Regions from separate parts of the Homo sapiens genome. Here region 2 is linked to region 1. A link means that fine-mapping ties the variant in region 1 to the expression of a gene that starts in the linked region. Tissue or cell type: whole blood. Region 1 holds a variant in brackets; the other region holds the start of a gene. All regions are shown on one strand. Distances are between the middles of the regions.

The links. PIP is the estimated chance that this variant, and not a neighbour inherited with it, causes the effect.
Region 2: CARMIL1 starts here. The variant in region 1 is fine-mapped to the expression of CARMIL1 in whole blood (INTERVAL, PIP above 0.99).

Annotation. Positions count from the first base shown.
Region 1 is chr6:25,393,429-25,401,428 of GRCh38, reverse strand. The region is part of intron 2 of CARMIL1 (capping protein regulator and myosin 1 linker 1); the gene reads right to left. The region is part of intron 1 of LOC124901281 (a long non-coding RNA gene); the gene reads left to right. Among named protein-coding and RNA genes, the nearest start is that of CARMIL1, 120 kb to the right of the region's middle. The variant A/C (reference allele first, on the strand shown) is at 3,239.
Region 2 is chr6:25,265,878-25,282,597 of GRCh38, reverse strand. It overlaps CARMIL1 (capping protein regulator and myosin 1 linker 1), which reads right to left and starts at 3,224. Exons shown (of 37, transcript NM_017640.6): 1 at 2,763-3,224. The coding sequence starts at 2,802. It also overlaps the pseudogene HNRNPA3P17. RefSeq lists a silencer at 3,027-3,496.

The DNA.
Region 1 (8,000 bases):
AAGCAAACATAGGAGCTGACTATCCTTGCTTTTTACTCCAATATATATACACACACAATGTCATATACACATTTTATATGTGTATCTATAAACACACACATTTTGTGTGTGTATGTATATATACATATACATTTTGTGTGTGTGTGTTTGTGTATAAAATGTTTCTTCTGGGGGGGAATATTAAAATTAGCAATTGCATCCCTGCAACATTATTAATTAAGAGCTGAGACATAACAATGTTATAAAAGCAAAGGTGAAACAAATGTGAACCGTTAAAATAATTCAAAACTGTATAAATGTTATTAGTTCCTGTGAAATAAGCATAAATATACTAAATATATTATATATGGAGATAAAAGTACCATACAATATGCAGGAAAACCCTAAAACTAGAACTATATCATAAATCTAAACTAAAGTAAGTATGTTAGCTATTTAATAATAAAAATATATTCTTTTGCTTCTTGGAATTTAGAAAAATTTCTTAAGGATGGCTTGGTTAGCCTGGTCTTCTCAATGAGTCTGGGCAAGTCTGAATTGATGGTTCCTCTTAGTGAGAGGAGACTCAAACAATAGGCAGAGGCTTTATATATGTTTCATGATGACACTGAAGATTCTAGGAACAATTGGTTTTTGAAGTGCTAACATAGAGAAAGGCAGACTTTCCTCTGCTATCAGTTACCTTCCCTAAGAAGGTTGCCAGCTGTGTGACATCACTTGGGTAATCATTCTGATGGCCATTATTAGAGAAAAACCCATTTCCTTCTAAAATGACTTTGTTTTAGTTCCCCAAGTTATAAGTTTTTAAAGGAGCTTTGGGATATGAATTCAAAAAATTCCCAGTCTTAATTCTGAACATTTTTTTGGCCATTACCATGAAGCACAGCTGGTGGGGGGATGGATATAATCTATTTCTCATCTATAGAGCATTTTACAACAAAAGGTGACAATAAAAATTCCATCATTATGCTTAAAAAGTCCCTCTGATTCCCTGGGAAACTCATGGAAGGAAGACTGATTCTAATTCTTCCAAATCATGCAGGAAGGAAAAGCATCCAGGAAGATGCACATTCATCTAAAGCACTGAAGATAAAGCAGTCAGAATGGGCACAGGCAGAACCAGGCGCTGGGTGTGGACTTTCTTTATAGGCCTTATCCCTTTTCCCTGAAAATGCCAAGTGGGTGCACCATGGATCGTGCTAGGTTAGCATGATTTACATGGAGATTTTAAGGTAAAGATAGAGAACTAAAGACAGAAAGGAATTGAGGCTAAGGACAGAAATGGAAGCTGCACAGATGTACTGCATGGATTCTATGAGTCAGACAATACCTACAGATATAATTGTAAGGTGAATGGTACAGCGCTTCTCAAGACAGACACGCCTGGACCAGCTCCACCATTTACTAGCTGTGTGATTTGGAGCGAATTATCAGATCCCCTACACCTCACCCTTGGCTGTAAAAACACATAATGTAGTATCTACCTCCTATAAGTGTCGTGAAGATTAAATAAGAGGATGTATATAAAACTTTTTAGCACACAGCCTAGCTAACAACAGCTCAAAAGATACTAGTTATCTAATGAGAATTAAAATAACAGTCATAGTTCAACCAGTAATAACAGCTCTCTGAAAGGCCGAGCTAAATATTTTTTAATTCCCTTAACATATCAGTAAAGCAACTGAAATTGGAAATAAAATTTCCTCCAGGCATAATTTGATTTACACGTTCTCTAGGGATTACATGAAGGCCCCACACAGAACAGGTTCTATCCAAATCACCCCTCCACATTCATTAGCATCATTTTTTAGTTAAATAAGTTAAACAAAACTTATATTTTTCACTTCTTAGAAGTCAGCCTGTTATATTTTCTGAATGCCTTAAGGCTTAGTTTGATATGTGGTTTCAATGCCTCTGACATTTTTGCCAGATTTGACCAATTTGCAACCATTCCCTGAAATCTGCCTCATATCCAGTCACCAAACATAAACCATCCACGATACACTTAGAACATTCGGGTCTCCTATTAGCTTCCCCAGTCAAAGAGACCATGGCTGTTGAGGGTCTTCTCTAATGCAAGGGTTGCATCCTCACCTGGGCAGGTAGACAACCACATTCTGGCAGAGCCAGACAATGGCAAGTCCAGAATCCTGAGCAGAAACACTTGGAACGACTGTCATAGTAGCCGTGCAGCCCCTACCATCTGTATTACACCTGCAAAACCAGGGGCCTAAGGCCTTTTTCTAGCCACAAAAGGCTGTGCATCCTGGATCGCTTACATAAGTATCAAAAAGTATCCTTCCAGAGGCCTTCTCTCCACACACTAGTTCATAATAGCTCTTCCTTTTTTGAACCATCTGTGAGCGGGGAAGAAAAGGGGGGTGTTTTTGAAAACTGCTGTAAACCAGAAGTGGCAAGGCACTTACCTTATCACGTTTAACTCCATGAGGAAGGTACCATGATTCTCTTGTTATAGACAAGGAAACCAAGACTCAAAGAGGTTTATAACAATTTAACTTGTCCCAACAACATTGATAAGAGTTAGAATTTGAACCCTCAATTATCAGCTTCAAAAGCCACATTCCCTGCAGCACCCCATGAGGTGAGCCTCTCCTTGCTAATGCTTCTCATCAATACCCCAGACCAGCTCTTGGGGCTCATATCCTTGGTTACATTATTTACTCATAAAAGTCTTCGCATGGGGAGCAATAATTTGCATGATTCTGGAAGGGCTTGTTCATGTCACACTTCACACAGCACAGTGTCTGGTATAAAGCAGATAGTCGTCTGATCTAAATCTTCTATTCCCATAGCCAGCACATAGCTAGCCTGTGTCGTCTGCATATGATTATCACATAAACAGGACTTGCTAACACCAAGCTTTGGAAAACAAACTTCTTCCCACCCACTAACAGGCTAGTTGGTAATTAAAACCCACATTGATTTATCACCGTAAGCACTTTACACAAGAAACAGATTAACTAGAATTAAGGACACTCATGACAAACCTGTATGTGAAACCTTTGGGGGACAAGAGAAATATCCATTACTTTAATATACTTGCTGATTTCTCTATTTGTGAGTTTTCATGACTGATGATGTTCCTTTGCCACTGGTCATCAAAAAGGCTTATCATAGTTGTGAATTCTGAATACAAACAAATGAATTATCCCTAGTTGAGAGCTCTTGGTGGAAGAGGTCCTAGTCATGACATCACTAGGTCTTACTATAGGAAGTA[A/C]AAAATTCCACCCATACCAGAAAAATATAAAATTACCTTGTTCATTAATTTTTAAATAGTTCTTTACCCAGTTGTTCCTCTTTTGCAGTAACCCAACATTCAGAGATATGGCTCCTTTTCTAATTCTTTAGAAAATGTAATCTTTTCCCCTCTAATATTCTTAAATCCTCCAAATTTGCATTAAATAACATCAATATTAAATGATAATCCAGAAAAGATGTCAGTATCTTCCCTCACTGCATGCACATGCACACACAGACACAGAAAGCATGTGCTATTTGAATGAAAATAAACCTAAATGTATTTTAAATCTATGTATATGTTAAAAAGCTTATTTGCCCAATTTAGGTGTCTAAAATTAAGATTTCACGTTTCATGTATTCCCCGAGAAAATTAAGCTGAGTGATGGAATACCTAGGAGTCCATTAGTGGAAAAGAGATGATGTCCCAAGGAAGAAACTATACTAGAGTTAATCCAGACACCACCATCCTTTATCCAGATAATAGCATTTCTCTAAGCAGCCCAGTGAATACCATGCTATTCACTTGACTGAAAACCCTCATGTGTCAAATAATGGCCTCTTCACAGGCACTGTGATAGCAGATTCCTTAGATAACCAGTGGCAAAAGTGCATGTAAAAACACCCTTTGTTTGGCAGCTACGGCCACAACTTTCATTGCTTACCCTCTACCCCTTCAGACTCCCTATCTGCCCCACCCTATGCACCAGATGTCCCCATTCCTATTGACTGCTTGTCCCTCATGCTCTACTTGCTGCCATTTACCAAAACCATCAAGAATTTTATTCTGACCACCTGCTTGAAGATGCCCTCTTGAAAGGGGATTTGGACCACAATTAGCCCAACAGCCTGCAAGGCCCCCTTGGCAGACACCAGCACTTCCGCTTGTATGAGGGCTTAACCAAGAAGGACTTGCTTTTGTGGAGTTGGGGAAATAAAGGGTTTTTTTGGGGGAAAAGAAGTTCAAATGACTGAGCTAGAAAGAACCTTAAGAATGCTTAATTCTTTGCAGCACTTAGCTGTAAATATGCCTGCAAACCTTTTCTGGAGTTTTAGCCCCCTGAGGGCAGGACAGTGTCTCATGATCTTCATCTTGGTATCCCCCCTCAATAAGTGTTTGCTGAATGACAACCTCCTCCTTGATGCCGCTCTCATGAGCTAGGTTGTACATGAAAATTGTTAATCAGCTGGGGACTAGATGGCTTAAAATAAATGGCCCCATGTGTTACAGAAGACACTGGACCGGCAATCAGAAGACAGGTTCTCATCCCTACTCTGCCATTAAATAGCCATTTAATGTTGGGTGAGCCCCTTGTCCTCTCTGAGCCCATTTCCGCATCTCTGCATGGAGTGAAAAATGCCCATCTCTAAGGACGCTGTGACTCCATTATTATTCCGTGGCAGTTTTAGAAGTAGAAAAGTGTACTTTTCTACTGACAGCAAAGGTTGTTAATACAAAAAAATAAACAAAGTTACCATGAGTTAGTGAAACTACCTTAAGATTAAAACGGCCAGGCATGGTGGCCCACGCCTGTAATCCCAGCACTTTGGGAGGCCGAGGCGGGCAGATCACTTGAGGTCAGCAGTTCGAGACCAGCCTGGCCAACATGGTGAAACCCCGTCTCTACTAAAAATACAAAAATTAGCTGGGCGTGGTGGTGGGTGCCTGTAATCCCAGCTACTCGGGAGGCTGAGACAGGAGAATCGCTTGAACCCAGAAGCCAGAGGTTGCAGTGAGCCGAGATCATGCCACTGCACTCCAGCCTGGGTGACAAGAGCAAAACTCCATCTCAGAAAAAAAAAAAAAGGAAAAAAAAAAATTAAAACATGATATTTATTTTCCCAGGATGGTTTTGCTTCTGGTGAAGGTCTCTTTCAGCTCTGTAATTCTGTGACCCAGTGAGAAATTTTGAAAGCAATGTTATAATTCTACTATTAAATTTAGATGTATTTATAATGTTGTGGCTTATAAAATGAAGTAGACAGTCTTAAAAAAAAAAAGCAGAATAATTTTAAATTTTCCTGAAAAGAAATGGGGCAAGCCCTCCAGGTAGTGCTGTCAAAATAAACCTGCTCAGCTTTTTCACAGGGAATCCGCATACCCTGAAGGGGATGAATCTCATATAAGGAAAAGCTTGAGTGCCACCCTTCAGTGGCAGTAGAGAAATAACCACAGGGCAGAAAAGACTGGGAGGAGGGCAAGGCACAGAAACTGTACGCAAGATCTGTGACATATGGAAGTCACAAGGACCCGCATGATCCTAGGAGCCATCCAAGTGGACAAGTCAACACACAACAGCATGAACAACAGGCTTCATTCCCCGGCTGGAAACCACCTTTCCACTTGCTTATGTCTTACCTCAATAGGAAGACAAACGCAATTTTCTCATTTCCTCCATCCTCTATGTAAAATTATCATTTATAACAGCAACTTTTGAGGAATGCTAAGAGTGACTTGCAAATGCTTAGGCAGATCACTGATTCAAAAAGCGAGCAATACTATATGAGCAATCATTAAAGAAGGTCCCAAAATGTAACTTATGTATAACAAAAAGACTTTTAAAATTGATGTTACTTTTAAATTTTGTAACAAGAAAAATAAGTGAAAACAAAACGGTCATTATCTCTATTTCTGCCAGAAGATGCATTGTTCAGTTAACAATCTTATTCAGAGATATTGATCAAGGAATGGCCGCAATGAGGGTCAATTAAAAATAGTTTCTTTTAACTTGAATTTTTAATTTGAAAAGATTTGCATAGTCCAAAGAAGATAATGCTGCTATTGGAGCAAGATGTTTCTAAATTTTCAGCGGTGTCAATCATTTATAACAGAAGATGCCTTATTTACTCTGTCACTCAACCAATGTTGACTAATGATGTCACAGCAGTCACTTGTTTCTGTATCCTGTACGTCCTCTCCAGGATGTTTCTCCTTGCACCGCCGTCCCGACAATGCATATTCTTAACAGCGCATGGGCTTGGGGACAGCAACGCACAGAAATATGTCCATGCTTACAATGATGTAAGCCAATTCAGCGAGCTCCTAGTCCCCAGTAGGGTTTTAATTTTCATTTTTTTGTGACTTGCTGGTAAATTTAGACAAAATCATGGAGAGAAATAAAGGGAAAAAACTTGAAGGGACAATATTTTTTAAAGTGCCTTGTGAAATGTAATTAGATACACCTTACCATAAATAGTCTAAGAGTTACCATTAATCGGAATATATTTTAAGGTTTCCTGGGTGTATTTCTCCCCAAATTATTTTTCTCTGCTAAGGCAAAAGGAAATAAGTAACATATTTACTTATAAACAGTAAGACATTTCCAAATAGGTAGTACTCATTTGCTGGAATAATTAATCTTCTCACAGAAACCCCAAAATAGTAACTGTTAATGTATAAATGTTTCTTTTAAGTACAATTAGGTAACTCTCCTTTACTGAAACCCTTGATTTCTAACAATTTCAGTACGGTTATTTATATTAAAACATCAATCCAACAACTCATAGTGGCTCTGTCCATTAGACTGGCTTGAGAGGAGAGACCCTGACTTAACCACTTGCACAAACCCAACACTTGGTACAATTGCCACACAGTAGTCATTAAACCAACCTGAATCACAAAGAGCTGCAGTAGTTATTTTTCCTATTCCTAAATGGTGTCTTACTTCTTTTTTCACTGATTTTACAGATTAAAAGCAAGCAAACAAACAAGGCTTACTCAAGTGTTTACCAGATTTCTGACTTAGCCCCTCAGGAACTGTGTAATATTGGGTAGATGATTTAACCTCTCTGTGTCTCAGTTTCCTCTTCTGTAAAACAGAAATTAATTTTAGCACTTTAGCACTTGTCTTCTAGCGTTGTTAGAAGACTGAATGAGTTAATAGTGTGCTGCTTTGTGCTGGCTACTGTGTCATCATAACCATCACTATCACTGCCAAGAAGATGAACAAAATCATAGCGGGAAGGGCTCCATTTCCCAGGGAAAATAACTATCATGCATCTTTCTCTGTAAATACAAGTTTGTAAACACTGGCTAATGACAGAGGGATGGAGAGATATGTGATAAAGCAAGTAAAATGTAAATGGTAGAAACTAAGTGGTGGTATGTGGGTGCTCACTTAACACTCTTTCAACTTATCTGTATGTTAGAAAAATTTCATAAGAAAATGGCAAAAGAATCACATAAGGCAGAAATAGGTGAAAAAGAAAAGGGAACTTAGCGTGGAAGATCAGCCACACTACCTCCCCAAGAACGTATTATTCATCAATAACAATAGCAACAACAATCATGATCTTTCTTTTCTTTTTTCTTTAAGAGATGGGGTTTCACTCTGTTGCCCAGGCTAGAGTGTGTGGTGCAATCAGAGCTCACTGCAGCCTCCAACTCCTGGGTTCAAGCGATCCTCCTGCCTCAGCCTCTCAAGTAGCTAGGACTACAGCTAATTAAAAAAAAAAAAAAATTGTAGAGCAGGTCTTGTTATGTTGCCAAAAATGGTCTCAAACTCCTGGCTTCAAGTGATCATCCCGCCTCAGCCTCCCAAAATGCTGGGAGTACAGGCATGAGCCACCATGCCCTACCTAAAAACTTAACCATGATTTTTTTTTTTTTTTTTTGAGATGGAGTTTCATTCTTGTTGCCCAGGCTGAAGTACAATGGCGTGATCTCGGCTCACTGCAAACTCTGCCTCCCAGATTCAAGCAATTCTCCTGCCTCAGCCTCCCAAGTAGCTGGGATTACAGGT
Region 2 (16,720 bases), 120 kb after region 1:
TATATGTTTAATAAGGGGTAATCAAAATTTTCTTCTTGGAAATACCGCCATGAAAGTTTAGAGCTGCTGAGATAAAGAGTGAAAACGGGGAGAAAAAGACAGTGTACGCATAAAGAACAGCATGGAAATCTGAGAAAGCACAGCCTGTTCAAGGAACAGCAAGGAGGTGGAATGTTTGGGGCAAGGGAACATGTAGAAGAGCTCACTGCACTATGAGTTCTTCACAAAGCTCCTATCTTATCAGAACTCGAGAAACAAGCACAGGCCACTCCTCCCTCCCCTAAAAAAGAATTGCGGGAAATGGGCATCTGAAATTGACTTAAGAACATATACACATGGAAACAGACTGGAAAATCATATACCCTTTAAAATAACTACCTCTAAGTGGTAACAGGAGTGACATATAGTCTTCTTATTCTTCTCTACATTTAAATTGTTTCTACATAAAGTCTATAACACTTTTTTTTTTTTTTTTTTTTTTTGAGATGGAGTTTCACTCTTATTGCCCAGGCTGGAATGAAATGGCTTGATCTCGGCTTACGGCAACCTCCGCCTCCCGGGTTCAAGTGATTCTCCTGCCTCAGCCTCCCGAGTAGCTGGGATTACAGCCACGTGCCCCCACGCCCAGCTAATTTTTGTATTTTTAGTAGAGACCGGGTTTCTTCATGTTGGTCAGGCTGGTCTCCAACTCCCGACCTCAGGTGATCCACCTGCCTCGGCCTCCCAAAGTGCTAGGATTACAGGGGTGAGCCACCACGCTCAGCCAAGTCTGTAACACTTTTTAAATATCTTGAGGGAATCTTAAGGGAATATATAGAGGTTTTCATGTGGTCGGTCGCCATTTTGAATTGATCAGAGCAGAACTCTTGTGAGCACTTGAATTTAGAGGAAAGCAGGTGCAGGTATTTATTCTATCCCAGCCTAACTTGACCACTGAAAGGCCCAGAAAAATCATATCGGGCATAATATGTCACTCTCTTGAAAGAGATAGGCAATACTTAATAAAAACAAAAATTCCATTTCAAGATAAAGGTCAAACTCAACTTTTAAAATATACAAACTATTCCTTTTGAGAACCATGAATAGAAACCCAGACACCTTATTTCCACTCTACCCTTCACTCTTTCTCTTGGGCCTAAGTAATTACCTACACTTTCCATTTCCAGACTTAAGGACAACTCCTTATATAAAGTAAAAATCTGCCACCCACTTTAGCCATCCTTATCCCCTGACCAGCCAGGCAAGCCCTGCCCTACACTCATTCTCAGGACCTCTGGAGGCGTCTTCAGAGCCTCTGGCGTTTGCTTGGGGTGTTGGAAAGGTCGCAGCCTCCCAGAACCGGATGTGTCACTCACTCCAGCAAAAGATGCAGACTCCACAGGGTTGGGGAGAGAGAAGAGGATCTGCTGGGATCATGATGAGAGGTGCGTGTGTGTGTGTGTGTGTGTGTGTGTGTGTGTGCGCGCGCGCACACGCGCGTGCGTCTGTGAATAATTTCATACTGTAAATTCTGGTAAAAGATCAGGTTTGTCTGTAATTCAGCAGAAGTAGGGGCTTCCATACAAACCTAGCAACAGCCTCTCTACATCAAGTTTTACCTGCTGAGTTAACAGTCACCAACGGAAGGGCATACACAAATTCCTCCAAAGTATTATTAGCTAAAAGAAACAACAGAGGGGCAAATTCCACACATGGAGATCAACGGGTGCTCAGAACTTCCTCTTGTTGTCAGCGCCGATTAAACATCATCTTTGTGAGCTGTAGGCTGTGTAGTGTGCCAAGAATGGTACAGGAGGGAATATAGGTCACTAGGGCTCAAAACACATCTGTACACAGACGCACATACCTTGTTACAGTATAACATGCTACACACATATACATGCTTAAACGCTAGGTTTTCAGAACACTCTCCCATCCTATTTCAGCTCTGCCATTTTAACCCTCCAGATAATTAAGTTAAACCCCAAGACTTAACCAGCCCCGCCCCCACCACCACCAAAAAAAAAAAAACCTCAAGGTACTCAAACAATGGGTCACCTTGCACAGCGTAACACACACGGGTTCCCTAAGAGATCCCCTATAGGGAGAATCGGTAGGTTAATCATTATTAAAATAAGGCTTTTATCATTAACCCTCTATTTCCTGGCCTGAGTCTGCGTCAGCCCTGTAACCCTTTCGCTCCCAGCTGGCTACACCAAGCCACACCTTGCCAAGCCCAGTCATTTTACCAGACTAGCGCCCACTCCCCCAAGTCTGCGTGTCAGAAGATCACCTCCCGCGGGGCATTTTCAGGAAAGCGCCTGACACGTGCCGGAGACGACCTACTGTGCGCTCGCCACCTGTCCTTCCAATAGGCTTTCCCGGACTTTCCCGAGTTTGGGGCAGTGGGCTGGGAGCTGTAAAGGGCTCCCCTCGCTTGCAGAACTCCCAAGTCTAAGATGGCCCGCCCCCTTCTTTCGCCAACCTGGATCCCCGCTTCCGGGCAAGAGGAGGTGCCCAGGGCTCACAGTCGAGACCCTCCTCCCACCCACCTCCCGAGGACTCCCGATTCCTCCCCGAAGCCTTCCCTCTCTGCACTTGGCTCTACAGGCGGTCGGATGGGAACAAACTTCCCGGCACCCCCAGTGACCCTGCCCAACACCACTCTGCCCTAAGGGGCGCCAAGACTTCTCGAGACCTGCGGGAAAGCAGAGGTGGGAAGGGAGAGAGAGGTGAGGAGTACGCAGAGGAAGGTGGAAAACCAACAACCGCGTGAATCTTACCTATCAACTCCCTGGGAACGTCAGAGCTCTCCTCGGTCATGGTTGCCCTGTAGGTGTGGGGGTTATTGCAGGTCCAACTCTGATTTATGGCCCCCTGCCCTTCCCCGAACTCCTCAATTTTTTTAGAGAGGCAGATGCAGCTTGCAAATGGAAGTGGGCAAGAAAAGGGGGGGCGGAGACAGAATTTTGCCGCGCGCCCCCCGCCCCACCAAAAAAAAAAAAAAGAGTTGCAAATGCGAGGCGGATTTGCTGCTGCTGCTACATGACGCCTCCTCGCAGTTCCCGGCGGCTGAATAAGGAGCGGACCGGATTACAAGCGGGCGCGGGGCGCGGGGCGGCTGTGGCGCCTGCTCCTCCTCCCGGCTCGCTGGTCCCCGGCGGGGCTTGGGCCGGCGTAGCTCCCGCCCAGCCTCCGCGCCGCACCTACAGCCCTAGGTGAAAGCGGAAGGCGTGGGAGAGGGCGGGGAGAGCGGCGCGGGGCGGGGGGAGTAGGTTTTCCTCGCGCTCCTGCCGGGCTCCGGCTGGGCGGGGGCAGCTCCGGCCCTCCTCCTTCTCCTCCTTCTCCTTCTCCTCTTCCTCCTGCGTTTCCTCCTCACCTCGCGAGAGCCGGCCTCCGCACCGGTGCGAGGCCGGCCTCCGGTGCCCGAGCGCTGGGTCCCCGGCGTAGGTCGCACCCCCAGGAGAGACGCTGTGCGGTGCTGCGGTGGCGGCGGCGGGCACCGCGCCCCTCCTCGCAGCCTCCCTCCCAAACCGCAAAAGCCCTGCGTCTGGAGAGGGGGCGAGCGGGCTCGCGAGAGAGCCCGGGAGCCATCTGCTGGCTGCGAGGGAGGAGAGCCGGGTGAGCCGGGCTTTCCATTTCCTTGTCCCCACTCCGGGCGGGCCAGGGGACCCAGAAGACGGGAGACGGCAGATTCTGCAGACCCGTCTACACGGAAGCTGGTTCTTTTTGGGACCCTCTTACGCACTTTTTCTTTTTCAACCCTCCCGGTGACATGTCACTTCATCATCGCTATTCTTCATTTCTGATGAGCTAGACGAAACCTGTGAACACTAATCATACCGTGAGAAGACACTTGTGTGTGTGCGTTCAGCTGGTGCTCTGCAGCCGCAGTTCGCTATCTCAGACATTCCCGTTGAGAGCGCCTTGGAAAATGCCTTTCACTCGGAAAAGTCTCTTTTATCCTCGGGGCATATTCAGGAAGCTGAGCTTTAATCACTGGAGCCTATGTAAGCCTGCGGATAGGTCTGATCCTACCTGGGCCCAAACTCCCTATGACTTCCCTGAGCTCCATCCCCAGAGGTTCAACTTCAGGGCCAAGAATACTTTGTGCCTCAATCGCTGCTTTTTAGCCTAGGGCTGGGAATGTCCCAGACTGTCTAATCAGGTTCTGCTTTTAAAGGACAGAAAAGGAGGAAAGGAAAGGGAATCCATGCACTTGGCAATCTAATTTTAAACACTGCTGTTGACCTTGGACCCCTTAGAATCATCTTCAGCCCCACAGCCAGGCCTTACCACTAAGGATTTGCCAACCTGGCCCCTTCCCACCCTCCTTAACCTCTCCCACTCCCTTCTCTATTACAACCAGACTCACTGTTTGCTTCCTCCTTCCTCTTAAGGTTATCTGATTCTTATCTATGTTTTCAAACCCATCCCAATGGTCTACCTTCTTTGTGAATATTTTCCAGGGATTTTCAGATTACTGTGATCCCTAAGCCTCTACAATATGTATTGCCTGAAACACTTTTCTAAACCCAACCATATGGTGTCGTGTTTCATTGCTTGTGTATTTGTCTGGTTTTACTATCTAACTCTTGCATTGTCCCCTGAGTTTGGATTTTTTCTGCCCAACTAGACTGTAGGTGAGTTGAAAGTGGGAATTTATCTTAGACTTTTGAACTTCTTCAACAGCCTAGTTCAAAATAGGTGTTCAATAAACATTTGTTAACTGATTTTAGAGCTTTGGACCTCAGGCCTCCAACCATTTGTTTCAAAAGTGGGCAATTTCTTTAAGCTAGACATTTCCTTAATGCATTAAATATATTTTTTCTGCAGTAAATGGAAATTAACATCTCAAACTGTCTTTCATTCAACCTGGTGTGTTAAAGAGGACTTTTCTGGCACATACCAATGAAGTTTCAGAAATGCCCTGAAGTTTCCAAACCATGTGATAACTTGTGAAAATAAGAACAAAAGTTTGTCTTTTTTTTTTTTTTCCTGTGGCCTGGGTGATGGAAAGAATAAAGGGAAGGCTGTATGGCAGTTCTGTAATTCAGTACTCTTTGGCTTCTTTTAAAGGAAGCTGGGGTTTCAATAAAAGAATCATTTTCACTGCAACAGGATCCTGATTGGCTCCTGCATCTCTGAAGAAGTGAATTCAAATGAATCTCCTATCACAACACTGAAAAATGACTGACTGATTTTGGAAATCAAAGTCATTTACTTCTCGGTTGCAAAACTCAAATATGTTTCAGAATAGCAAGCAGAGAACTCCAAGGAGCACTGTTTATAAAGCTGCAAACCCAACAAGCAGTAAACATCCCTAGCACCGTAAAACCATGGTGCCAGCTTGGAGAATGCAGTTTGCATTCTGAAATGTGTGCTTGTTTACTGAATCGGCCTGCCCCTTCTACTGCTACTGCTGCAAAAACAAACTTTTCTCACTCCATCACTCCAACTTCCTCAAATTCATCCCTGTTTATATAGTCTTGAATACACGAGTGATCAAACCACTACATGAAACTGATTGTGTTACATATGTGATTAGCCATAGCTTCATCTAAGTAAGTATTTACATGTGGCTGTGTTTAAGCCATACAACTAGTACTGATAATCTGAAAGCTGTTAGTAAGATAAAACTTTTTCAGAGAATCCCTACTGCATTTGAATCTGTAAAATGTTTAACATTTAACATATAGTGAGTGGCAACATTATTTTGAAAAGGAAGATGGAGAAGAGTGTAATTTGAAAAGCATGGCAAGGCCAGGTGCAGTGGCTCACATTTGTAATTCCAAATGCTTTGGGATGCCGAAGTGGGTGGATTGCTTGAGCCCAGGAGTTTGGGACAGACCAGACTGAGCAACATAGTGAAACCCCATCTCTTTTGAAACATACAGTGAGTGGCAACATTATTTTGAAAACTTATCCATGGATTTTTATTTTTAATTCTAAGCATATATTCACATCTATATAGTACATTTTGTAATGCATTATGGTCAGAAAACACTCTGAGTAAAAAAGTTTGCAGAAAATAGTGTCCCTAAAATGACACAACATGCTATCATTAGAACCATATCATGTAATGATTAAACCCATGGAGATAAAGCAAACAAAAAAGTTAAGAAGAAATCAGCACTCTAACAAAAAAAAAAATCACAAACTTACGTAGGTCAGTTTCTGATCTCGTCTACTGCATTAAGAACTGGTTTTAAAATGGAAAGGTATTCAGAAATGTGGGAACCACCAGCATTTTACTCCCCAAGTAATGATTTTAAGATTACCTTCCACCCCCAGTAACCATTGGGGAAGGGGCCTTCTTAAGAAGGTGTATTTTTCAACTTGGTTAATAAAGATCTTTCAGGAGGGTAGGCAATGTGAACTAAGCTTGCAAACACCTCTAAGAAAACTTAGTTTATCTCTGACTAGAAGACGGTGGAAGGTAAATGGCTATTAAACAATACTCCTTTAAAGTATTTACAAATGAAATTATATGAGACCTGAGATTTGCTTGAAAATAGCCCATAGGGATGGTGGGGGGTGGAGAGTATTGAGTAGAGATATAGATGAAATCAGAGTGACCTTGTGTTGATTTTTGTTGCAGCTGGATATCAGATCCATGGGAAGGCATTGCTTTCACTTTTGTATGTGTTTGCAATGTTTCATAACAATAATAAAACAGAACGAATCCTTAACACATGACTGAACAAAAAAGAGGAAAATCAACTCAGTCATTAATTCAGAACACATCTGTTTGAATGTGACATAATTAGAGCTCCCAGTTTTACAATGGTTTTCCAACTTCAGAACACTTGAACACTTCAATAGATAACGTGTTGTCTTGATTCAAAGAAACATTTTCTTATGTTAAAGTTACTGAAATCTGAATGTTTTATAATTGATATAGATGGTTAAAATCATGCTCTTCACACCCCATTCCCAACACAAATGCAAAATATATTATGAAATCCATGATTCATCTGACAATAAGTGACCTATGACAAGTGAGGAAATAAGGGTTTGACATATCTGAGCTACCCAGTGACTCCTTGGGTAAAAAGTATAATTACTATATCTTTATCACAATGAGGAAATAAGTTCACATTTGTGGAGTGACTTGCCCAGAGTCACAGCCTTAAGGGTCAAAGATTGAACTCAGAATTTGAGATTTCCAGGTAAATGTTCATTTTACTATAGTTGTTGTTGTTGTTGTTGTTTTGAGACAGGGTCTTGCTTGGTCACCCAGGCTGGAGTGCAGTGGCGCGCGATCTTGGCTCACTCCAACCTCCGCCTCCTGGGTTCAAGTGATTCTCTTGCCTCAGCCTCCCAAGGAGAGTAGCTGGGACTATAGGTGTGTGCCACCACATGGGGCTAATTTTTGTATTTTTAGTAGAGATGGAGTTTCACCATGTTGGCCAGGCTGGTCTCAAACTCCTGACCTCAAGTGATCCGCCAGCCTCGGCCTCCCAAAGTGCTGGGATTACAGGTGTGAGCCACGACACCCAACCCATTTTAATATCGTTTTTATGCTACTCTACAGGCTCCTAGGCTAGGTTCCCTGGGAAGCATACAGGTGACCAGGGCTTGGCCCCACTCACCTACAAGGAGCTCCTTCTCTAGGAGGATGATCAAGATGAGCTTCGATTGACCTGCAACTAGCCCAGTGCCAGCCACATAGTAGGTGAGGGAACATTCCTTCAGAAGGCTCAACTGAGCCAAGCCCTTTTATAAAATAATAAATACAAAATGTGCTAGATGTCAAAATGCGTTCAGTAAGTGCTATAGAAATTCGTAGGAGGGGGAGAGAGGAAGCAATAAAATGTGGAAAGGTTCTTATATAAATTGACTCAGCAAATATGAGTTGAGCACTTACTATTTGCCAGAGGTTGTAATGGTAAATTATGTGGCTGCTTCATGCAGCCCTCATGGAGCAGTCTAGAGGAGAAAGAGAGCAAGACCAAGACAAAAAAAAAATGCAACATCTTTTATAACTTAATCTTGGAAATGACATACCATCACTTCTGTTCTATTTTACTGGTCACATGGATCAACCCAGGTCAATGGAGGAAGGTGACACACAAGAATGTGAATACCAAGAGTTGGGAATCATTGAGGACCATCTTAGAGACTGGCTAAAGCAGAGAGAGAGAGAGAGAGAGAGAGAGAGAGAATGGGGCTAATGTAGAGAAAGTAAAGGATCAATGATTAGAGTAGCTGGGAATCAGGAAGGTAAGATACCAAGTTGGGAAGTTAAGTAAAAAATAATTCAAGAAGGGAGAAAGGGTTAACAGTGTCCTGTGCTGCTACAAAGTTAAATTTGATAAGGAATAATAATGCATACTTGAACTTAGTAATAAAGGAGGTATTGTTTTCTGTGGAAAGATATATTTTAGTAAAATGACAGAGAAGATAAAGTACAATGGGTTGAAGCATAATGAAGAGATGGAAAAGATGAAGGGAAAAAGGGAATACATATGACTCTAGAATTTTGAGGGTGACAAAAAGGAGAGAAGTAGCCAAAGGCCTACATAGAAGACTTTCTGTTAACCCTCGAAGATTTAATACTTACATTTATTTCTGCCACTTTCCAATGAGAGGAGAAGAATAAAACAGCATCAAGTCTCTAATGTAGATTATAGACTTTAATAATGTTGTATCAATATTATTACTAGCCCATTACTTGCAACAAATGTACCACACTGATGCAAAACAATGATAGGGGACACCGCTGGGGTAGGAAGCATATGGAAACTCTCTGTGCTTTCTGCTCGATTTTTCTGTAGACCTAAAACTATTCTTAAAAAAGAAGACTGCTCTTCCTCTCAGTCCCAAATTGAACTCAATTTGGAAAAGGCGAGTCCGGGCTCAAAATGGAGGCACATGATCCAAAGGAACCAGAGCACTTGAGAAAACTGTTTACTGTGTTCACAGCTTTGAAAATACAGACGATAGTTTGAGAAATGGCACATACTCACAGGCTGTGTGATAATGAGAGACTCCCAAACAACACATTCCAGAGGCTTTGGTTTTGTGACTTACTCTCGTGTTAAAGAGGTGGACACACAAGGCTGACAGGTGTGTACTGGAACCAAAGAGAGCTGTTTCTAGAGAGGATTCTATAAGGCCTGGTGCCCATCTAACCATGAAGAAAATCTTTGTTTGTGATATCAAGGAAGATAGAGAAGAATGTAATTTGAAGAGCATGGCAAGGCCAGGTGCAGTGGCTCACGTTTGTAATTCCAAATGCTTTGGGAGGCCGAAGTGGGTGGATTGCTTGAGCCCAGGAGTTTGGGACAGACCAGACTGGGCAACATAGTGAAACCCCGTCTCTACAAAAAAATGCAAAAATTAGCCGCGCATAGTGGCACGTGCCTGTGGTCCCAGCTACTTGGGAGGCTGAGATGGGAGGATTACTTGAGCCTGGGAGGTAGAGGGTGCAGTGAGCCAAGATTGCACGACTACATTCCAGCCTGGGTGACAGAGAGAGACCCTGTCTCAAAAAAAGAAAAGAAGGAAAGAGAGAGAGAGAGGAAAGAAAAGTATGGCACTATTTAAACCATAGATGTTATGGAAGGCAGGCAGAGTGGAAAAAAGAGGGGATTTGCTTTTTTAAAATTTACTTTTATTTATTTTTTATTTCGAGACAGGATCTCACTTTATCACCCAGGCTGGAGTGCAGTGGCCTGATCATAGCTCACTCAACCTCATGGGCTCAAGCAATCATCCCACCTCAGCCTCCCAAGTAGCTGGGAGCAAAGACATGTGCCATTACACCCAGCTGATTTTTAAATTTTTTGTAGAGATGGGGTCTCCTTATGTGGCTCAGGCTGGTCTCAAACTCCCTGGATCAAGCGATCCTCCCACCTTGGCCCCTAAAGTGCTTGGGAGGCATGAGCCACTGCACCTGGCTTTGCCATAACTTTTTAGGATCATAATACAGTTGATAAAGTTGTAATTGTCACAGAGCAAAATTTGGAGGCGGTGGAGGTAATTTTGGCTGTGGTGAAAACTTTGGTGGAAGAGGAGGCTATGATGGAGGTGCTGGAAGCAGAGATAGTTGCAGAGGAGGTGATGGTGAATATAATGGATTTGGAAGTGATGGTGGCAACTATGGTGGTGGTCTTGGTTATAGTAAAATAAGGGGCTATGGTGGTGGTGGACCAGGACATGAAAACCAAGGTGGTGGATATGGTGGCAATGGTGGAGGATGTGATGGTTGCAATGAAGGAGGAAATTTTGACAGTGGTAACTATGATGGTGGTGGGAAGTATAGTGATTTTGGAAATTATAGTGGACAACAGCAATCAAATTATGGACCCATGAAAGGAGGCTTTCTGGGTGGAAGAAGCTCGGGCAGTCCCTATGGTGGTGATTATGGATCTGGTGGTAAAAGTGGTGGATATAATAACAGAAGGTTCTAAAAAGCAGCAAAAAAGGGCTTCAGTTCCTAGCAGGAGTTAAAGTGAGGAGTTACCAGGAAAGCAGCAGGTTACTTTGAGACAGTCGTCTCAAATGCATTAGAGGAACTGGAAAAATCTGCCATAAAAGGAACAATTATCCATAGTTAGAAAAGTTACTGCAGCTTAAATAGGAAACCCTTCTTGTTCAGGACTGTCATAACCACAGTTTGCAAAAAATACAGCTATTGATTAATGCAATGTAGTGTCAATTAGATGTACATTCCTGAAGTCTTTTATCTGTTGTAACTTTTTTTTTTCTTTTCGTTACATCAGGTGTATGGCCCTGTAAATTGTGATAGTGGTACCAGGAATAAAGAATTAAAGAGTTTTTAACTTTTCAAAAAAAAGAAGCCTAATAATTTATATAAAAATGCATAGAGCAGCTGGGTGCAGTGGCTTATGCCTGTAATCCCAGCACTTTGGGAGGCAGAGGCAGGTGGATCACAAGGTCAGGAGTTCAAGACCTGCCTGGCCAAGATGGTGAAACCCCCTCTCTACTAAAAATACAAAAAAAAAAAATTAGCTGGGCATGGTGGTGGGCACCTGTAATCCCAGCTACTCTGGAGGCTGAGGCAGAGAATTGCTTGAACCCGGGAGACAGAGATTTCAGTGAGCTGAGATCATGCCACTGCACTCCAGCCTGGGTGACAGAGGGAGACTCCATCTCAAAAAAAAAAAAAAAAAAAAAAGCATAAAGCCACAAGGACAAAGAAAATAGGAGATAGTAACAAACAAGAAAATTCAACATTTTGGATCTGAGAAAGCTAATAGATGCATGGTAGCTGACTTAGCAGACTAGTGAAAGATAAACTCTAACCCTCCGGGGAGAGAGTGAATAAAAAGCAAGTTAATTTCTATAGCAGAATCCAAGAAAAATCTCAGGAACTAGATACATAAGTTATCTCTAAATGCGGAAGTACAGAATGAAGGAGGATTGGTACAGATTTTAAAAGCTCTAGACACTCCATAGATTCCCTCCCCTACCTCACACAGCCAGTCTATGCACCCCCTGCACAGCTGCCTCAGATGGGAAGTTAACTCTTTGGAGAGGTTAAACCAAAAAAGACCTAGTCTTGGAACAGCAGAGGGTGAAAGTGAGAAGCCATACCATATGGAAAGGGAAATATTCCTAAATATAAGCCCCTCAAAAATTCATTCTCTGTTTAGTTATCAGAAGTCTAGCAGCAAGGCTTATAATTCCAGTCAGAGAATTGGAGAATTCCTCTCCTATGTTATTAATCATCTTTAAATGAAAAACCTATGAGATACTGACCTACAGGGACTGGCCAGTGAATAGGTCAAGTCCCCACCTGTCCCCCTCAATTGAGACCCACCATTTGACAAAGCCTGCCCATTCATGTAAAGCTTCAGATCAGCTTTGTTATGCCTCACTGTAAATACAGACATCAAAGGCACACTGACATTTGAGGAAAGCCTCTACCATGAAAGCCAGAGACCAAAACAAACAAACCCCAACAAGGGACATAGAAGAGCATGGAAGTAAAAGAAAACTTCAAAAATCTGTAGTGAGAGAAATTCTGCCTCTGGCTGCAATGGAATAGCAAGGATTGGACATTCTCTCCCACAAAAACCCAGAAAAATATGCAGAACGTAAAAAGCTTTTATTTTTCAAACATTGGACATCAGGTAGGACAAGATTTAATCACTAAAAGAAGTTGAAACAAACAAGGTGATCACTATGATTGCCCCTGATATCTTCCTGGAAATAACCAGACTGTAGATGCAAAGAGGGGGATCCTAAACAGAGTCTATTGAGTCAAGCAGATGTAGGGATCAGAGAGGCCAAGGGGGCTGAATGTTACGAGGTAGAGTTCTAGAGATGAGGGAGCTGTGCTGAAAAGAGCTCCAAAAATCTGCATAGGGGTCTCTTTGAGTCTTTGCTGTGTATGTGGCCAGACAGGAATAAGGTGAAACTCCACAAGGGCAGGCAAAAACCACTGGAGAATTGTAAGGTGAACTACTTCTAGAGCTCACACAGGGCAGAGAGATATTTGAGTTCTGACCAGTCCAAGTGGGAAGTCATCTGTTCTCATTTTGGGCATCTGGTGGAGACTTTGAGAAGCTGGGAAAAGAAGAGAAAATAAAATCCAAAGTAAATAGAAGAAAGAAAATAATACAGGTCATAGCAGAAATCAATGAAATTGAAATTGGACCCATAACTTTTTAAAATTAGTAAAACTTAATCTGGGTCTTTGCAAAAAAATTTATTAAATTTTATGCAACACTTGGTGGACTGATCAAGACAAAAAGATAGAAGACACAAATGACCAATATTAGGAATGAGAGGGGGACATGATTACAAATATTAAAAGGGATAATATTGGAGATATTATGAAGAACATTATGCCAATAAATTTTACAGGTTAAATGAAACCTACACATCCCTTGAAAGATAAAAATGTCAAAAGTGACTCAAGAAGAAATAGAAAAAATCTGAAAAGCCCTAAATCTACGAAAGACATTTGAATTTCAAAATAAAAACCATCCCATAAAGAAAAGGAAAAACAGTCACATCAATTATCTCTTTACACACACAAACAACCATAAGGCAAAATTCAACATCCATTCAAAATAAAAACTCTCATTAACTAGGATAGAGGAGAATTTCCTCAAATTAATAAATTGAATCTATGGAAAACCTATAAGTAATGTTATATTTACTGGTGGAAGCATTTAGTCCCCCTTATGCTTCCCTCCTTAAATCAGAACCAAGACAAGAGTATCTACTCTTCCTATTTATACTCAATATTATGCTAGAAGTCTTAGCAATACTAATAAGGCAAGAATAAGAAATGAAAGACATAATGGGCAGAAAGGAAGAAAAGCCTGTCTTATTTGAAGATGGCATGACTGTATACATAGAAAATCCTAAGCAGGCCAGGCATGGTGGCTCACGCCTGTAATCCCGGAACTTTGGGAGGCCGAGGAGGGCGGATCACGAGGTCAGGAGATGGAGACCATCCTGGCTAACACGGTGAAACCCCGTCTCTACTAAAAATACAAAAAATTAGCCAGGTGTGGTGGTGGGTACCTGTAGTCCCAGCTACTCGGGAGGCTGAGGCAGGAGAATGGTGTGAACCTGGGAGGCAGAGCTTGCAGTGAGCCAAGATGGCACCACTGCACTCCAGCCTGGGCTACAGAGCAAGACTCCGTCTCAAAAAAAAAAAAAAAAAAATTTGCTGGGCATGGTGGTGTGTGCCTGTAGTCCTAGCTACCTGGGAAGCTAAGATGGAAGACTCACCTGAGTCCAGAAGGTCGAGACTACAGTGAGCCATGATCCCACCACTGTACTCCTGCCTGGGTGACAGAGTGAGATCTTGTCTCAAAAAAATAAATAAAATAAAATAAAGAGAGAGAAACACTCAGCAATAAAACGAAATGAACTAATATTATATATGGCAATATGGATGAATCTCAAAAACATTATGCTAAGAAAAAGAAATCTAGACACAAAAGAGTGTGTACTTGTGGTAACAGGAGGCATACAGTTGTCTAACCTCAGATTCCATGGGGATTCTATTTTTGGAAATCAGAAAAGATAAAATAACTCTCAGAATGATATATATATTACTAGAAATGTTTATTTCTGTAGGTTATTGGGAAGAATCTGCTTTGTACCTCATTCAGGATGTTGACAGAATTTAGTTCCTTGTGATTATGGAACTGAAATCTCTGTTTCCTTGCTGGCTGTCACTCAGGGCCCATTCTCAGCTCCGAGGGCCAGCTTACTTTCCTTGGCATGTGGCCCCTTTCCATTTTCAAAGTGAGCAAAGCTAGAATCTCTCTTGCATCAAACTCCTCTCATGCTTCTAACCTCTTTCACCAGAAAGAGACTTGTCCTTTTTAAGGACTCACCTGGACAGGTCAGGACCACCAAGTATAGTCTCTCTTTCTCTCTCTCTCTCTTTTTTTTTTTTTTTTTTTTTTTGAGACAGGGTCTCACTGTGGTTGCCCAGGCTGGAGTGCGGTGGCACAATATTGGCTCACTGCAGCCTCAACCTCCCAGGCTCAAGTGATTCTCCTGTCTCAGCCTCCTGAGTAGCTGGGATTACAGGTGCACACCACCATGCGTGGCTAACATTTTTGTATTTTTAGTAGAGACAGGGTTTCACTACATTGCTCAGGCTGGTCTCAAACTCCTGGACTCAAGCAATCTGCCTGCCTTGGCTTCCCAGAGTGCGGGATTGCAGGCGTGAGCCACTCACTGCACCTGGCTAGTCTCTCTCTCTCTCTCTCTCTCTCTCTCTCTCTTTATTTATTTATTTATTTATTTATTTATTTAACTTTAAGTACTGGGATACATGTGCAGAACGTGCAGATTTGTTACATAGGTATACAAGTGCCATGGTTGTTTTCTGTACCCATCAACTTGTCATCTAGGCTTTAAGCCCTGCATGCATTAGGTTAATTCTCTCCCTCCCTTTCCTCCTCACCCTAGTCCCTCTTTCTTAAAGTCATCTGTACTACATATAACACAACCTAATAATGAAAGATCCCATCATATTTACAGGTCCCTTCCATGCTCTAGGGGAGGGAATATACCACAATCTGCTACCACAATAAAGTTGGCATAAAACATAGAAAAAATTAAGAGAAATTTCAGCAAATCATTGTATTGTGAATGCTGAATGATGGGCGATACGTGTTTTTGTTTAGTTTTACTAACTTTGTTGTGTATGTGTGTGTGTGTTGTATTTTTAGCATATTGATCAATCACAAAAAGAATACTAAACTACTTTTATTAGTGAATGTACTTATTTTTCACATTTCTTTTCTATTTTTATTAATATCTGTATACTCAGGATTAACCTTTGTTGTTTGCTTCTGTCCTCTGGAACCTGATATCTGGGGCAATTTCAAAAAGTAATTTCTGAAGTGGGGGCAATAAATAAGTCAACCTAAAAAGAGAAAATAGCAGTCTGAGAAATCTTTCCAAATTTTCTGTTTAAAAAATCTGGCCACATAAGAAGTAAAAATAATAATAGCCATCAATGATGCTAAGCCACTGACACATTTCATCAGCATTGCTTATCTCCTATTTTCCCATTGTTCAATGTCGTCACATGAATTGTCATAAAAATGAGATTATTATTGTTCAGTTGCTCATTAGTTCAGGCTGTGGAGATCTCCTAAAAAGGATAACTTGTCTTTTGAGACCTCCCTATTTGTTACTAGAGAAAAGTGTGGGATGTTTTGGATTGCAGATGGAAAGTTTTCCTCTTTAACTGAACTCTTGAGATTGTAGTGAAATCATCCATGTCCTGAAGCATCATAATCGTTCCCATATGGACGAATTCATTCAATAAACAGTTATATTTGCATATATAGATTATCCCTAGAAATAGTTTGTCCCTGTTTTGGGAATCTTTGCTGTTCAAACAGCTCTCAAGGGTATATAAGAGGGTTTTACTCCTCTTACCCACCTCCCCATTACAACTCAGTTCCCTAGTGTTTTCCTCCAAATATTTTTAAGAAGTGAGGTAAGCTGGCTCTGAGGCTTCTAAATTCTGAATTCTGGCTCATTTTAACTGAGTCATTCCGGAGGTCCTAGCCTTGAAACAACTTATCTTTGGTTCCAATAAACAATAAGCTTAAGAAAAAAAGTTAGCTGTCTAATAGCCCCATGATTCCCTTGGCTATCTAGCTAGAAACTCTGTTCGCAAATCTGCTGCATCTTTGATGAATAGGAAATTTACAAATAATTCACAATTATGTTGAGTCAGCGCAGGTAGGGAGTTATCAGACAGTCAAAATACTTTAAAAGTGACCTGTTGGAAAAGTACTAATTTAAAAACCTGCTCAGATTTTTGCTTTCTTTCTAGCGATTACCTTAAGATTGTATTGCACCCTTTGTTATATTTTTAGATATTTAGATTTTCTTTTCCTTTATTGCTGATATTGTTATTGCTCTATGAAGCAATACAACTTTTAGCCATCTGCTTCTCTTCCTCTTTTGGATAATTGACATTTTGTCAAATGGCAAAAAAACAGTATCAACCATACTAAGTAATAACTAGCATTTATTAACCCTTCCTTCATGTTGAAGATAAAGCACTTCAAGTGTTTTATCTCATGTAACTCTCGAGACAACTTAAGAGGTAGGTGCTTTTATTATCTCTAGTATTTAAATAGGGAAGCTTCACTCCAGACGGGTTAGATAACTGTCCCTAAGTCACACATTGACACCACAGAGTAGTTCTGATGATAGGTTGTGGTGCTTCTACACATTCCCAATCTAAAATGCCAGTAAAGAAGTGACTGCT